Homo sapiens: one gene and its partner. The protein of the gene in region 1 interacts with the protein of each later gene in a pairwise test. Each region holds a gene or a part of one and is shown in the gene's direction. Other genes may lie near its edges.

Region 1 (5,604 bases):
AAAGTCACTTAGTTTGTATTTAAATCTAGATTTGACTGATTCTAAAACTTGAATAGGGAAAAAATGGGTGGTAACTGCCTCTTCGATAGTTAGTTGTCTTTTCCTAGATAAAAAGGTGGGTATTAGCATGCATTCCTCAATACCCTGACCTCCTGGTGGGAAACTGCAGTGGCAAATCTGCTTGGAGTTCTTTGAGAATCAACATGATCTTTGTACTTAATGTTTATTTACAGACAAGTGGTCATAGATGAGTTTTTAACTTCCAGTTTTTTTCCTTGGTTCTACACTTAACTACTGTTTAGACAGAAATCTTTCAAGATCTAATGAAAACCACCACTTCCTCTCAAAAATTAGACATACAAATAAAATTTTGCATAGTCTGTGTTTTTTTAATGTAAACCTAACAAATTTGACGCTACTAGGAAAGGTATTGCTGGAATTTATTAAATAGAGGTTATTGAATGCTTTCCCTGTGCCAAAAGACAGTTTAAGTGCTTTACAAACATTATCTAATTGCATTCTGTAACAGCTCTACAAGGAAAAAGTCATTATTCACCATTTCACAATAAGGATACTGCGGCTCACATGGCAAAATCACAGTTTCTAAAATTTTCAGCCCTGTTTCAAACCCCGGCTATCTGATTTTCTGAATCATTTTCCCTATCCCAGAGATGGATACCAAAATGTAGAACCTTGTCTAACTTCAGTACTTTACTTAAGTTGAGAGACAATAAACAAAAAAAGCCTGGAGGAACACAGCTTCAGTGATGACTTCCAGAAGGCTGCTTGTGAAAGAAGCAGTGGAATTTTAAAAGCCTAAACTCTGCCTCTTTGTCTTTACTGAGAATTAGTCCTAGGTAGGTAAATAGCACCAGGCCTAGGGCAAGACTAGTTTTTCTTAAAGGCGATGCATTCACTTTGTAATGAAATAATGCAAGTAATTGCAAAGAATGTATCACTGTAATTAAGAGCCATGTCAACAAATAAAACCCTTTGGGAGACTGATTGTTTATTTCAGTTGTTATAGCCAATCAGATTGGAGAGAACTTTGTAACTTCTTCAATAATTAATCTGAGTTATTCCATCAGTGGTCATAAATTAACTTATGGAAGACCAAGTCTACAAAACTGGCATATTTATTCATGATTAAATAGATTTTTGGTGCCATTTGATGGTATAAATTTTACCTAGTAAAAGACAGTCACTGATTCCTAGTCATCTTTGAGGGAAAAAAAAGATGTTGATAAAGTGATACAGATGGAATTCAAAATCAGTTTTTTTAAGAAGGCATGGAAAAGCAATTTCCTGAAAACTATTGTAACTACAAAAAAAGTGAATACCCTTTCCCTGCGTCTGCCTGGTATCCTGTGCATATCTCTATCATAATGTTTATTACATAACATATTTATCAGTTTGACTCATCTGTCCCCTCCCCTCCCATAATTAAACTACACTTTTTCTTTTTGAGACCGGGTCTTGCTCTGTTGCCCAGGCTGGAGTGCAATGGTGCAGTCATAGCTCACTGTAGCCTCAAGTGATCCTCCCACCTCAGCCCCTCGAGTAGCTGGGACTACAGGTATGCACCACCACACCCAGCTAATTTTTTTTTTTTTTTTAACTCAGGGTCTCACTATGTTGCCCAGGCTGGTCTCGAACTCCTGGACTCAAGCGATCCCACTTTACCCTCCCAGAGTGCTGGGACAACAGGCATGAGCTACCAAGCCTGGCCTTTAGACCACACTTTTGAAAATAGAGATTGTGTCCTTCTTCACTGTAGTAGCCCAGTATCAAGTACATAGTAGGTATACAAAAACATTTGTTCAAAGAAAAAGGAAGCAGGCAGGGAGATAAAAATCCCCCTGGAGTAAATAACATTGTTAAGTGTTTGCCTTAGCCTTATGTTGGTGGAGCAGTTTTTCTGTTTACCATTTATTTTATTAAGTTTGTTATAACTTAAGCTGTTGATTTTAGGGCATGGCCATTATGTTTATTATATATTATTACAGATAGACTATTTGTCTGGGTTTATATTATCAATAAAAGGATTATAATTGCCAAGATAATATATTGTCCTTAATAAGAAATCTCCTTTTATTTATTAAAGCATGGAAAGAGAAGTTTAGAGGTCATGGTTAGTAGAAAGAAGGAAGTGTGTGTCAATAGATAATTTTCTATTGACACACACTTGTTGATAATTAAAATAGATCATTTCAATTAAAATAATTTTCTATTGACACACACTTGTTGCTACATTCTTTTTTAATCTTTCTCTGTCTGCTGGGACTACTAAAGAAACTTGAACTCCAAGCATTTGGCCTCACATTTCAGAAGATTATCCTTGAAGATACAACCAATAAAGTCCTAAAGTCTCAGACAATGAAAACTATACTGAACTTGTGGTCCAGTTAAAGTGAGCACTATGGTAAGGTAGTAGAATATAGTGAAATGAGAGTGGAATTTATAATTAAAAGATTTAGGTTGAGATCACCCTACCATCACTTAAGAGATTTGTATGAAGGATGGTCCAAGAACATTTAGAACTCTGACTTACTGCCCCAAGTGTAGTCTGTTTCTCCTCCAGAGATAGAGTCCCCAAGCAGATTGTTAGTTGATATTTTCTCCATAGTGCCCAGATCCCAAAAGGTAATTCACTTCATAAAAAGTTTCTTCCTCTAAACTTATCAATAGTGATCTTAAAGTTGTGGTAATAATAATGGCTACTGCTTGTTGAATACTTCCTAAGTGTCAAGCCCTTTACATATTTTCTCGTTTTATCTCCACAACAACTGAGTGAAATAAATACTGTTCTTTTCCCCATTTTACTGATAAGAAAATTTAGTGGTAGATTTGGAATCTAACACCAAAAATGCAAGCTTTTAGCCACTGCTTAGCTGTTAATCACAGTGAAGAACTGAGAACTTTATCATCTAGTTTTCTTCTGCTTCCATTTCCCATTTTTAAATGAAAACGATGTTACCCTCCAAAGACTTATATGAGAAAAACTTAATTGTGAATAATTTTAAGATGTCCAAGTAAAAGAGCTGGGAAAAAAAAAAAAAACCTAAAAAGTGGGAGGGTTTTTGTTCTGTTTTCATGTATTTCAGGCCTAGATGAAATTTAATTAACTTAATACCCATTATGAAATTGTTTTTCTCTCCAATTTTCCTGAACATAAATGTTTTGGTGCTTCCAGACATGGGCCATGTTCAGCCCATTCTTCTGCTTTCCTGAATTCTCTAACGTCATGGTTGGAAAAGGTCTGATTTTTTTTTTAAAAAGAAAATACTTGAGGAAAGCAGTTGACAACTGCTTGGGCAGGAGATGGTTCTGTACTGTATCCCAGGATCCTGTCTGCTGTTTCAGTTTGTCTTATGTGAGAGGCAGTCTTTTTTTTTTCTTTTCCCCAAAAAAACAACACACTCAACTCATCCAGCAACTATTTAACAAATGTTTTTTGAGTACCTGTTATATACACTAAGTGTCTTCCATATTAGCTTATTTACTCATCACACTAACCTGAGGAGGTACTCTTATTAGCCCTATGTTTCAATGGGTAGACTGAGGCACAGTTGAATAATAAGGTACTTTCTCAAGATCACACAGCTAGTAAGTGGCAGAGCCATCTGTGAACCTATTATGCTATACTGTTTTCATAAAACCAAAATCTCATGAAGACACACAACTGAATAGAATAATTACAAGTGTGATAAATGTTGTTTTAAAAGGGTAAAGGGCTATTGCAGCATTATTTTAGACTGAGAGGTCCAAATTTAAAATTATTGCTGTTGCTCTCACCTATTTTTTTCCTCTTGTATGGCCTGAAACATTTGAATGCAGGAAAACTACAGAAAATCCTTAAAATATTTAGGAAATAAGACATTTATGCTTATTTACTTTCCTTATTCTTTTTGAGCTAAGCAAAGAATAACTGTTATTGCAAATCTTTCTTAGAAGTATTAGTCCATTTGTTTTCCTTAGTATTTCACAGTAAACACATTTTAAGCTTTGTAATTCAAACCACATAGTGCTTCATCAGTATCAGTTCTTTTGGTCTAGCATTTATAACTATAGATGGATTTTAATAGGGAGGAAAAGTTACAGTCTTCACTCATGGTTTTTAACTTGATACCATCTGGCCTGTAGCTACTCTAGCCCCAAGAATAATTTCTTCTCTAGAGATTTAAGGATAAGGGCATTCGAACAACTAAGCCGTGCCTAATTAAAATACTAATTTGAAAGGCAGGCTATAATGTGTGTGTGCTTGTTTGCTTTGAAATCTTCTGCCTTAAATGAATTGCAAGTTTTGATCTCTAATGAAACACTATCATTTTTTAACATACGTTTATCGAGACGCTACCATGTGGTAAACTCTGCCTCTTTCTCACTTCTAGCTTTTTTAATCTATCTCTCTTTGTAGGATTCTGTCTTCATTTTTGTTTCTCCCATTTTTACTCCTTCTATTTCTCTTATTTTCCTTCGCTTCTGCTATGTCCTTCCCTTCTTTGTCTTTTTCTCCTAAAATTCCAGTCATTTGAAAAACTTAGTTATAGTAAAAATTTGATTAATTGAAGAGGAATTTATATTCACTTACTCTACCTGCCCTTTTGCTTATTTTCACCAGGAGTTTTTGTTTATCAGGCCTTATAAAGGCCTTGCTTCAAAATAAGCAAAAGGGAGAAACTGAGAAGCTGGGAAATGTACCCTTATTTGAATAGCTGGAAGAAAGATCAAATGCATTATTTAATTTATGCAAGTCTTCCTCCTCAAATAAATAGTTGGCTGACATAAAACAGGAACAGCGTGTAACAGCCCATTGTCCAAATCTAGCTGACTCTGTTTCTGTATGTCCCACAAGTTATGAAATAGCTCTTATATTTTTAAATGATTTTAAAAAGGCAAAAGAATACTTTTTCATTACACATGAAAATTATGTGAAATTCAGATTTATGTCCATAAGTTTTATTGGAACAGCTGTGCTGTTTATGTAGGTACTATCTATGGCTTCTTTTGCACTGCAAAAGTAGAGTTGAGTAGTTGCAACAGACTGCAAAGCCCAAAATATTTAGTTCCTGGTTCTTTACAGGAAAAGTTTGCCAATCCTGACAAAGAATCACTGATGAAGAATCATAGTGGCCAAAAGTAACACTTAATCCTGAATACATATGTTTTTAAGAAGAAAGTTCAAAAATTGCCAAGACTTTTCAATTTGGCCTACTGTTACCCCTAAAAAGTGCTGCTGCAACTGAATAGCATGTGTTTTTGAGACTAAACTTCCAGCCTTTCTGTCTTGCCCCATCCAGGCAGGACTGCTCTCATCAATTTACAACATGAAGTGTTTTATTTGCACTCTGTGAAGGCAGAAGGAAAAAAGTGTCCGTTAAAAAGTGGCAGTTTAGGTATTTCAGTAATTCCTTAGCCCATCCTTTCTTATTGTGTAGGATAATGCTTATGACTCACAGTCAGATTCTCAGCAGAGGAAATCCAGTTATCTGTTGAACTTTACAATAATAAAATCTCAGTGATGAGTGGATTTATTACTCCACATGATTTCCAGTAGTGCTAAGGTTAATAGATCTGAAAGTAAATCAGCTGATGGGGAACGGG
Region 2 (3,500 bases), on another chromosome or scaffold:
TGTTATAGAAGGATGGCGAAGAAAGGCATGGCTGACTGCTCTAGCACCAGTTGTCCTTGGCCAGCCTCAGATGCCCACGGCCTGGACAAGTCTCTTGCAGAAAGAGCTTTCTAAGAATGGCCTTAGGGAAAGTGTTAGGTGATAGGTACACAAGTAACTGGCATGCTGACTGTGAGATTGATATCTCAGGTTAACCTTTGTCCTCACATGTGCTTTCTGCTGCAGAGACTAGCATTTGGTAGGAGTTAAAATAGAAAGATTTGTGTTAAGCTTACTTTAGTGCATTTGAATGAAAAGATGGATGGACGGATGAATGGGTGGGCCTGAAATGTGATTTGTTTGCTGGGCAGAGGTTCTGGGAAAACTTGAAAGTAAAAGAACATCTTATCTATGTGAATCTTTATTGGCTAGTTTGATTTCATGGAGATTTTTAACTATTCTGCCAAATATGGGTGCTCAGGTGGGTTAACTGCTTTGAGATGAAGGATGCATAAGTTTTGTGCATTTGTGAAGAATAACAAGTTTTGAGTTTTTTTTTTCCTGCCATGTTATTGTCATTAATTAATGTTTCCTTTCTTCCTTTAGTTGTGTTTTGCACTTACCCTGTGTTCTGCCTTTTGGGTAAATGTATATTTTAATTTTTCTTAACCATTTTGGCTTTTGCCCCTTGTCTCACACTCTCCTATAACCATATTATTATTTTTCCAGTGGCATAACAAGGGACTTGCACTTATCTTCTGCATTTTGCAGTCTTTGGCATTGACGTGGTAAGTAACCTTTTAAACAATCCCCTCCCACATAGCCCACTGAATAATGTAGCCAAAGGAGATAAAACTCACATATTGTGGGTGGGAGAATTAAGAAAACACAGAAGCTGTTTAATTTAAGGATTCGTAATGATGAAAGTGAAGTCAGGCTCCAGAGCAAATGCCTATCAACCCAGCCCACTGCCAATAGATGGCATTAGTGGTCTTGAGTGGTCACAGGAGGCTCCTTGTTTGCCTGCTGTGGCATTTTTGCTGAACTAATGGTTGATTTTTGAGATGTTACAAATATTATTAAGCCACTCATGTCCGGTAAGTGCAAGGACAACAAAAGTATTATAAGGGATGTTAAAAAGGCTTGTGAGTCCAATAGAGGTTAACAAAAAAGGAAAGTGGTAAGAAAAATAATGAATGTTACATTTGTGATAGAATGAATCATTTAACAGAAGGACAAAGAGTGAACTGTCAGCAGGAGATGAGGAACAGTCACTGACGAAATGGAAAAACGTGTGTCTGTGGGCTGTAGGATCAGCGTATGTGCTCAGAGGCTTGTTGGCTTTTGGTAATTCAGCTGAAGAGTAGGAAATTGTAACTCCAGAGCCAAGTATAGTAAAAGGGCCGCTGGAGACATTTTGGGAAACCATGAGTGGGGCTGTAGGTTCATGGTCCTTTCAAGCCTATACGACCTCAGAGTGAGAGGGGTGGTGGCATAGTTGGAATCTGTAGGTTCCAAGACATTTCTGTAGTTCTTTCAAAGTTTATCAAGGGATGGTATCTGCCAGAACAGTTTCAGTATAGATGTGACTCACCTATTTTTGAAAAAAATGTTTGCTACAGTGTAAAGAAAGGAGGATTGTGGACATTTTAAAGTTCTGAAGAATTGGTTAACTCCTATTTGGTAGAAATGAATCTTGAGACTGTAAGCTTAACTCCCATCCCTCCCTTTAGCAATTTTGGACTTTTGAATAAATATAGTTACAAATTGCCTTTTGGAATTTACTGTGTTGACAAGTAATTGAGCTTCTGTACATGTTAAGTATAAGATATGGAGAAGGATGCTGGTGTTTGTGTTTATGTGTGTGTGTGTGTGTATGTTTTTTTTTTTTTTAAATGACATGCACATTTGAGTGGTAGACTGTTTATATTTTGATTTTTCTTCCAGGGCAGAAATTGGTACCTATATACACACACCTTGCTTTGCTTATAGACTGATTTTGAATCCAGTTTCAGAGGTTCAGCATTCATATGGGTCCAGCTGAATGGTGATATTCCCTTCAACACTCATGTGTTCTGACTGTGTTTGCTTTTCTAAGGGCTAACTTACAGTCTGCCTGACACACAGTGCCTGGTTCTTTAGCATTATGGAGCCTGTTCCTTGTATATGGTTTCCTTCTAAGTGACAGGGCTGAGCTAACTGGAATTTACCAAGATACCTTTGGACGTACTACATTTTCACTCATAGAGTAGTTGGTAGCATTTTTTTCTTCTTCTTTTTTATTCTCTTTTCTCTTCTTTTAAAATTAATAGGAGCAGAGCAGAAAATTTATCCCAATTAGGTAGAAGTTAAATTCTGTTTAGAATTTATAAAATGTTAGGAGTTCAACTGTGCCAGGTATGGGTGGCTCACACTGTAATGCCAAGACTTTGGGAGGCTGAGGTGGGAGGATTGCTTGAAGCCAGGAGTTTGAGACTAGCCTGGACAGTGTAGCAAGACCGGGTCTCTGCAAAAAAACAAACAAACAAACAAAAAAAAACATTAAAAAATTAGCCGGGCATGGTGGCACATACTTGTAGTCCCAGCAATTCTGGAGGCTGAGGCAGGGGGATTGCTTGAGCTTCCTAGACTTGAGCCTAGAAATTCAAGGCTGCAGTGAGCTATGATTGAGCCACTATATTCCAGCAGCCTAGGTGACGAGCACGACCCTGTCTCAAAAAAAAAAATAAATAAATAAATAAAGGAGGGGGGTGCGGTTCAACTGTTCTGGGTTTTATTTGATATTTTTTCAGAATAGAGTTTCTGTGCCATCTGGGTATTTGAAATCTGACTGTTTAAGGTGATTGTTGCTAGTTCAAGGTTATAGCAGTACTGCATTGAGGCCGAGGTCATACGGGTTATCTCCACATGAACCTTTTGCCCTTCTTCTGTGGCTGCCTATCTGTACATGGCCATAGTGTGTGTGTTTGGGTACACGTGCATGCACATGCGTGGGCCTTTGTGTGCACATGCTCATCCCCCAGGCTGAGTATGGGAGAGGGTCTGGATAGATCACTGCAGGTATTCTTACAGCTCAGAAGCCCATTCTGCTGGATAATCTGCTACTCCCTTCATCTCATTTGACCCTTTGTTTTGTTTTTCATTATAGGTACAGCCTTTCCTTCATACCATTTGCAAGGTAAGACTGTGTATTTGGAAATAATGATTTCTGTCATTTTAATTCAGAGTCTGCTTTCAGAGAGTATAGCCTATTTTATTTATCTTTACTGAAGTCTTTTGAGTCAAGTAGACAAATACTATACATCTCATTTATAGATAAGTAAGTTAAAGGTCACCCCACCACCCACTCTAATTATACAACTAATGATGGATATTTACCCAGGTACACTGATTTCCAATGCTGTGAACATTCTACTCTTATATATGGTGCATATATGCACATTATTACTCTTTTAACCCGTAGCTTTGAGTAGGGTTTTTTTTTTTTTTTTTTTTATAAAGGTGAATGTCATTTCATATCA

What was found. Proteins that work in one complex are often made in the same cells at the same time.
Region 2: the proteins of STOM (region 1) and SFT2D2 interact in binary tests that used the Homo sapiens proteins (3 or more experiments, as listed by UniProt).

The regions. Positions count from the first base shown.
Region 1 is NC_000009.12:121,362,934-121,368,537, reverse strand, and holds part of STOM (stomatin), read left to right. Parts: intron 1-2,292; exon of another isoform or gene 2,293-2,422; intron 2,423-5,604. UniProt on the Homo sapiens protein: Regulates ion channel activity and transmembrane ion transport. Regulates ASIC2 and ASIC3 channel activity.
Region 2 is NC_000001.11:168,236,004-168,239,503, forward strand, and holds part of SFT2D2 (vesicle transport protein SFT2B), read left to right. Parts: intron 1-585; coding exon 586-621; intron 622-708; coding exon 709-767; intron 768-3,127; coding exon 3,128-3,157; intron 3,158-3,500. UniProt on the Homo sapiens protein: May be involved in fusion of retrograde transport vesicles derived from an endocytic compartment with the Golgi complex.